Linked DNA regions of Homo sapiens. The protein of the gene in region 1 purifies or fractionates together with the protein of each later gene. This does not show direct contact. Each region holds a gene or a part of one and is shown in the gene's direction. Other genes may lie near its edges.

Region 1 (3,500 bases):
TTTCTCATAACCTTACCTAGATAACAAGGTAAAACTGTCTCAGAAGTGCCTTTTAACTTTGTGATCTTTGAAAAAGCAGATAGAGTTTTCATTAAAGACCAGAGAACATTAAAACAATTTCAGTGCTTTCATCAAGATATGGCCCCTTTCAACCAATCATTTCAAAATATTACACAAAATTTAGGAGCCCTTTCTGTAAATAACACTGAAATGAATTTGGAAAGTGGCATTGCCTTAAGTATAGTACAGAGAAACTTTTGCCCAGGGGCCATATCATATCATTTGGATGGCTGTGCAGGTTTCTAAATAAGAGCCATCACCACTTATTTTGTTAAGAGAAAGGCAGCCTAAATAAATTCCTTTCTTGTTTCCTTTAACTAGTTACCCTGTGAACTAAGCTATGTTTCTTTCTCTCCCCATGAGTCCCAAAGTAGCTTTATTAATAGGAATATATGATGTTTGTGTTCTTAAAAAAAATCAGGGTGGTCTTAGATGTCTGTCGTCCATTCTGGCATTTCCCTTTATACAACCCTTTTGAATTTTCTGTTTAAAAACTGGCATTCCAACAGCTTTTCTTTGGCCTAATGCCTGGGTTGCATATTGAAGCAACAAATTAGGAATGTTAAGATGTCCCCCAAAGAAAAACGTTTGTTCTGAAAGTAGAGCTGATGTGACACATGGAATTAGGGCTTCTTAACTTGTCTAAATGACAGTTAATGATCTTTTCTCTTTTTCTTTTCTTTTATTGTTTTAACAGGGTGGCTGGGAGTGTAGAATGAAAGAAATGCCCAGAGGCCGAAATCGGGTTTGGTTCACCAAACTGTTAAATGTGTCAAGTGCACTTGACTGATACTACATCTTTTGCCTCTTTTTAGGAGCTAATTTCGTTACTCGAAAAATTAGCCGGTCAGTAGCTAAGATTTACCTTGGACAACTGGAATGTTTCAGTTTGGGAAATCTGGATGCCAAACGAGATTGGGGCCATGCCAAGGACTATGTGGAGGTAGGAACTGACACATTACATTCTTGAAAATACCCGTATCCATTGATATTCTAAATGCCAAGCGTACAGTGAAAAAGTGTGACCTAGAGGTGGGGGCATACAAACCTTTGCCAAGGCAGGTATGTTTACACTCATGCTGCTTTCACTTCAGGGATCAGTCGTTCAGGGATTGGTGGTTCAGACGTACAGGTAGCTTACACTGAATGGTACTTGAATGAGGAAAACTTTCACAAATACTCTTCCAATTATTTGTGCTGGATGATGGATAGATAGATGGAAAAAGTGTTTGAATGGTGCTCCTCTTTATTTTGGGGGTATAAAAGTACTAGTTCTCAGATCTTCTAGAAATACTGCCTCATTTCAATGTATATAATTCAAGATTCTTGGACTTACATTATTCTACTAAGTCCCGCCAAGAGTAATATTCTTATGGAACTCTGCTTTCTGCTGCTGAAGAGTCTGGTTATTACATCACACACTTCTTAACATGTTATATTGCATGTCGTTGAGCTTTACCTATTAAAGAGAGATAGAGAAAGATGTTAATAATGATTCTATTGTGAAATAATGGATATTGTTAAAGGGAAATTCAGATTTTCATTCTTGGCATTCCTAGACATGCTGTTTTGGGTTTGCATATATTACATACGCAAGTAGTATGATTTTTCTTTTATAAACAAATGGTTACCTTTTACTTTGCCCTGATCTCCCTGCTTTTAAATATCCATGTTGGTTCTGTGGTCAGACATGAGCAAGCATGGTAGAGACATTGTCCTTTCCCTGGAGTAGCCTGTCCTTGTTCAAGTGCTCACAGATTTCCTGTGCTCATGAGCCTATTTCTGTCCTGAATGATGTCTCTCTAGGAAACTGGACCCAGCTTTCTTGTTCATTTATGCAATTCAAAAAGAAACTTTAATGCCTACAAAAGAAAGCAAACAATTAGTTTGTTTGCTAGTGCAGAGATGAGGCTCACCTGCCATCTTGTTTTTGGTCATAACAATAAAAAATGTGTGTGTGTTTGAACAGCTAATACTGATTTCTGTTATGCACAAAATAATTAGCTTTGACTTTAGATTTTGAATAGTGCAACATTTAGATCTATTTATTTATTTATTTATTTATTTATTTATTTTTGAGACAGAGTCTCTCTCTGTTGCTCAGGCTAGAGTGCAGTGGCATGATTTCGCCTCACTACAACCTCGGCCTCCCAGGTTCAAGCGATTCTCCTGCCTCAGCCTCCTGCGTAGGTGGGACTATAGGCATGCGCCACCACACCCGACTAATTTTTGTTTTTTTAGCAGAGATGGGGTTTCACCATTTTGACCAGGCGGGTCTCAAACTCCTGACCTCAGGTGATCCACCCGCCTTAGCCTCCCAAAGTGCTGGGATTACAGGGATGAGCCACCGTGCCCAGCCTAAATCTTTTAAATATGTGCTTCTAAGCTATAATTACAAAGAAGCATTTTATGACATTAATCCTTAGATTTATTTTCAGAACATCACATCAAAAAATATATAGGTTCACGCTTAGAAATTATGAGAAAGTAGATACTGGCAAGAGAAGCCAAAACTTTCTTTTGTCTAACCTAAATGACCTTACCTACTGAAAAATATGAGGCTTGTTATGTAAAAATACATTATTTTCTCAATAATATCTATTTATTGTTTAGCCTTCTAGCCATCAGCATCTGCATAGAGCTACATAGTAAGCTATAGGTATTCTTTTTTTTTTTTTTCTTAAGGCAGAGTCTCGCTCTGTTGCCAGTCTGGAATGCAGTGGCACAATCTTGGCTCACTGCAACCTCTGCCTCCCGGGTTCAAGCGATTCTCCTGCCTCAGACTCATGAGTAGCTGGGACTACAGGCGCGTACCACGACGCCCAGCTAATTTTTATATTTTTAGTAGAGACGGGGTTTCACTGTGTTGACCAGGATGGTCTCCATCTGTTGACCTCATGATCCACCCACCTTGGCCTCCCAAAGTGCCGGGATTACAGGCTTGAGCCACTGCACCTGGCCCTATATAGGTATTATTTATCCAAACTCTTCTCCAAGTTCAAGGAACCAAATCGATTAAATTTCATTCAATTTTATTATTTTGCACGTAGGTGAAAAAGGATTCGGAAATCTAATAGATTTTGATAGTGAGGGAAACAGTATACCATAATGTTGATAGTGCTTTTTACAGGTTGTGTTTATTTTCTTCTTTATACTGTCTTTATTTTCCATAGATTTTAAATGAACATGTGTAAACCTTTGTAATTGGCCGGGGTAGGAGGTGACATTTCAGAAACAGGCCAAAAAGTCTCATGAAAATGAATGAGAGTGTTAAGTAAGTAAGGAGGAAGTCTTGTGTCAACGAGTAGATCTGAAAGAAGGACGCTGCTGTCATCTCACTTCCCAAATGCCAAGCTAGCTCCACTGTGAGTGTAGTCCACATCTGGGCACAACACTTCCCAAATGCCAAGCTAGCGCTGCTGCGAGTGTAGTCCACATCT
Region 2 (3,500 bases), on another chromosome or scaffold:
TCTCAATTAAAAAAAAAATGATAAAATGAGCTTTGGGTAAGTTTTATCTTTCAGCTTTTGTGTCTTTCTAACTCTCTAAAATAAATGTTTTCTGTGAATATTTTTAAAACGAATGAATAAGAAGCAGGAATATTCCTATCGTGACCAACTTCAGGGCTCCTCTTAGGGCAGAAGAAGCCGATGTGGAGCAGGTCACCTGTCAGGAGGAACCTGCCTTTTCTTTCTTTTCTTTTTTCTTTTTTTTCTTTTTTGAGACAGAGTCTCACTCTGTCGCCCAGGCTGGAGTGCAGTGGCGCCTGGGTTCACGCCATTCTCCTGCCTCAGCCTCCCGAGTAGCTGGGATTACAGGCGCCCACCACCACACCCGGCTGATTTTTTGTATCTTTAGTAGAGACGGGGGTTTCACCGTGTTAGCCAGGATGGTCTCGATCTCCTGACCTCATGATCCGCCCACCTCGGCCTCCCAAAGTGCTGGGCTTACAGGCATGAGCCACCACACCTGGCCTTTTTTTTTCCTTTTCTCTGTCACCCAGGCTGGGGTGCAGTGGCACGATCTCAGCTCACTGCAACCTCTACCTCCCAGGTTCAGGCGATTCTCCTGTCTCAGCCACCCAAGTCTCAGCCGCCCAAGTTGCTAGGACTACAGACATGTGCCACCACGCCTGACTAATTTTTGTATTATTTGTAGAGACAGAGTTTTGCCATGTTGGCCAGGCTGGTCTCAAACTCCTGCCCTCAAGTGATCCACCCGCCTCAGTCTTCCAAAGTACTGGGATTACAGGCGTGAGCCATCGCGCCCAGCCAGAACCTGCCTTTTGATGTTTCTTTTTTGGAAATGCAGCATCCCTAGCCCTAGAAAGTGTGCCTTGGGTGATGTGTATTTCATTTCTTCGTATGAAGAAAGTTATCAGCCAGGTTATGCCTTCTTTGGGTTAGAGTCCAGAAAATACTCAGTGTTCTACAAAGAAAAACAAATCTGGATTTATTTTTATTTTTTGTTTTTTGAGACAGTCTCTCTCTGCCATCCAGGCTGGAGTGCAGTGGCACAATCTTGGCTCATTGCAACCTCAGCCCCCGGGTTCAAGTGATTCTCATGCCTCTGCCTACCAAGTGGCTGGGACTACAGGCATGCACCACCACGCCCCACTAATTTTTCTATTTTTAGTAGAGATGGGGTTTTACCGTGTTGGTCAGGCTGGTCTCGAACTCCTGACCTCAGATGTTCTGCCCGCCTCGGCCTCCCAAAGTGTAAACCTGGATTTAGAGCCACCTTTGTTAGAATGATCCAAGGGCTCCGTGAGGACTTGTTTTGCTTTTCCCATTTCAGTATGTAAAATGGACCAATGACAAGAGTCTCGGTGGCATCGAGGGCTGCCTGTCAAAGCTCAAAGCAGCAGATCCAACCTTTGGTGAGTAACGCCTTCCCTGGGTGGAGGAGCCCCGCTTCACACATCCAGCCCCTCTCTTTCCTTTACCACAGGGACACAGTTGGGATGGGGAAGGCAGGTTGGGTGGCAGCAACCAGGGTGGCATTTGCACAGAGGGAGAGAAGATGACAGCTGCCTTTGTGTCTGGAAAAACAGTCACTCCCATAAAGATGCCAGGTTCTATCAGAAGGCATTTTTCTCATCTTTTCTTTAATTACCATCAATTCGGGAATGAAGATGCTGATCTCATTTCTCAGATGAGGAAACTGAGGGTTGGCAAGAGTAAGACTGTACTTAAAGCCACCCAGCTGGTGGTTGACCCCTGGGATTAGATAAAGCTTCCTGAATCCAAGGCCCAGACCCCTGGAACATGAGAGGTGGCTGCTGCAGCCTCCGTCAGGGGACCAGTGAGGCCTCATCCAGAGTGGCCAGGGTGAGGTGGTGACAGAGGCTGGCATCCAGGCAAGCCATGTGTACAGCGGGCATGGGGAAGCCAGCACAGTGCATTGCAGGTGGGTGGTCCCGTGGTGCGGCAAGGTTCCGGGCCTGGGAGAAGGTCTGATGAGGGGACAGGGCTCTTGTCAGTGCGGCAGGGACACCCTTCTCACCCTGCTGCAGCCTAGTCAGACTTAAGGCAGGGGACTTGTACTGCCCTGGAGAAGACAAACAAGGAAATAACTGGGGGAGAACGGGGGAGCCAAACCCAGTCATGGGGAGCCAGGAGCCAGGGGTGGGCTCGGACTCTCTGAGCAGACCTTGAGCCCTGATCAGGGGGCTTCGACCACCTGAATCATCAGCTGGGCTGGGCTGGGCTCGACCATCGGAATCACCAGCTGTTTTCCAGGGTCCACATGGGTGGTCCTAGCACACTATGGTTGGGTCCTGGGTCCCAGGCCTGAGCCAGTGACCAAGTTCCAAATGCCAGTGGACACCCTGGCTCTCCCACAGTGGGGCCTGGGGGCCTGCACTCCTGCCAGCAAGGCTGCTGCGAGGGCCACAAGGCACTCACCCCCACCCTAACTTTTAGCATGTGTGAGCAGCACAGATGGGATCATGACTTCTGTGCTCCGGGGCCTCCTTGGTCCAGCCCCTTATGAGCAGCATCCACTGATGCCTCCCGGGAGCCGTGTGCTGGCTGTGGCGGTAGTGTCAGCTGATGAGCCTGCAGGCAGCCTCTAAGTGGCTCATCCATTGAAGGGGGAAGGTGCTTTAGACACTGGCACTCAGCAGAATGCCCTCACTAGAAAAATGTTCAAGGGTGCCTTTAGGCTTGCAGTTCCCTCCATGCTTGACAAGAGCCGAGGCTGAGTTCTAGACAGTAGGCAGGGCCACAGTGCCCAGCCTGCTGCTGCCTGGCTGGCCCCTCCTGGGACGTGGGGTGTCTCTGTGACATGTGGAGTCTGGGCTGGGATGGGCTGAGCTGGACCATCTGAACCACCAGCCGTTCTCTAACCTCCCACCAGTGATGGGCCACGCCATGGCTACTGGCCTTGTGCTGATTGGCACTGGAAGCTCCGTGAAGCTGGACAAAGAGCTGGACCTGGCTGTGAAGACAATGGTGGAGATTTCAAGAACCCAGCCGCTGACAAGGCGGGAGCAGCTGCACGTGTCTGCAGTAGAGACATTTGCCAATGGGTGAGGGGCCTCCCTGGGCTGGGAGCTGGCACCCTGAGGCTGAGCTGGGGGAGTGGCAGGGTATCCCTTTCCTGATGCCCTTGGGACGGGGGCGGGGTGGGAGAATGCTTCTCTCCCTGCCTCCTGAGATGCTCTGATGGAAAATCGCATCCTGTCTGCTTCCCTATTCTTGGTGGAGTGCTGAGTGAGGAAGCAGTTGGTGAAGATTCCCAACTTAGTGTCCAAAGTAACTTGCTTTGTTTCATTAAGTAAATTATATATTATTTTCCTTACAAAAATAATAGGGTCACACTACAGAAATTACTAGGTTAGGGAAGAGAGAAGAAAACATGCTTCTTCTAGTGAGAAATAAACAATCAAATCAAATCTTCACCCATAAGTTCCTTGCTCTTGCACTGACTTTCACATCATCCCCCCGCTGTTCCTATGCTGGTTCCC

What was found. The genes of interacting proteins can lie anywhere in the genome.
Region 2: the proteins of GMDS (region 1) and TTC38 fractionate together in Homo sapiens (co-fractionation; one large-scale study listed by BioGRID). This does not show direct contact.

What each region holds. Positions count from the first base shown.
Region 1 is NC_000006.12:1,927,606-1,931,105, reverse strand, and holds part of GMDS (GDP-mannose 4,6 dehydratase), read left to right. Parts: intron 1-875; coding exon 876-1,003; intron 1,004-3,500. UniProt on the Homo sapiens protein: Catalyzes the conversion of GDP-D-mannose to GDP-4-dehydro-6-deoxy-D-mannose.
Region 2 is NC_000022.11:46,271,008-46,274,507, forward strand, and holds part of TTC38 (tetratricopeptide repeat protein 38), read left to right. Parts: intron 1-1,327; coding exon 1,328-1,409; intron 1,410-2,890; coding exon 2,891-3,062; intron 3,063-3,500.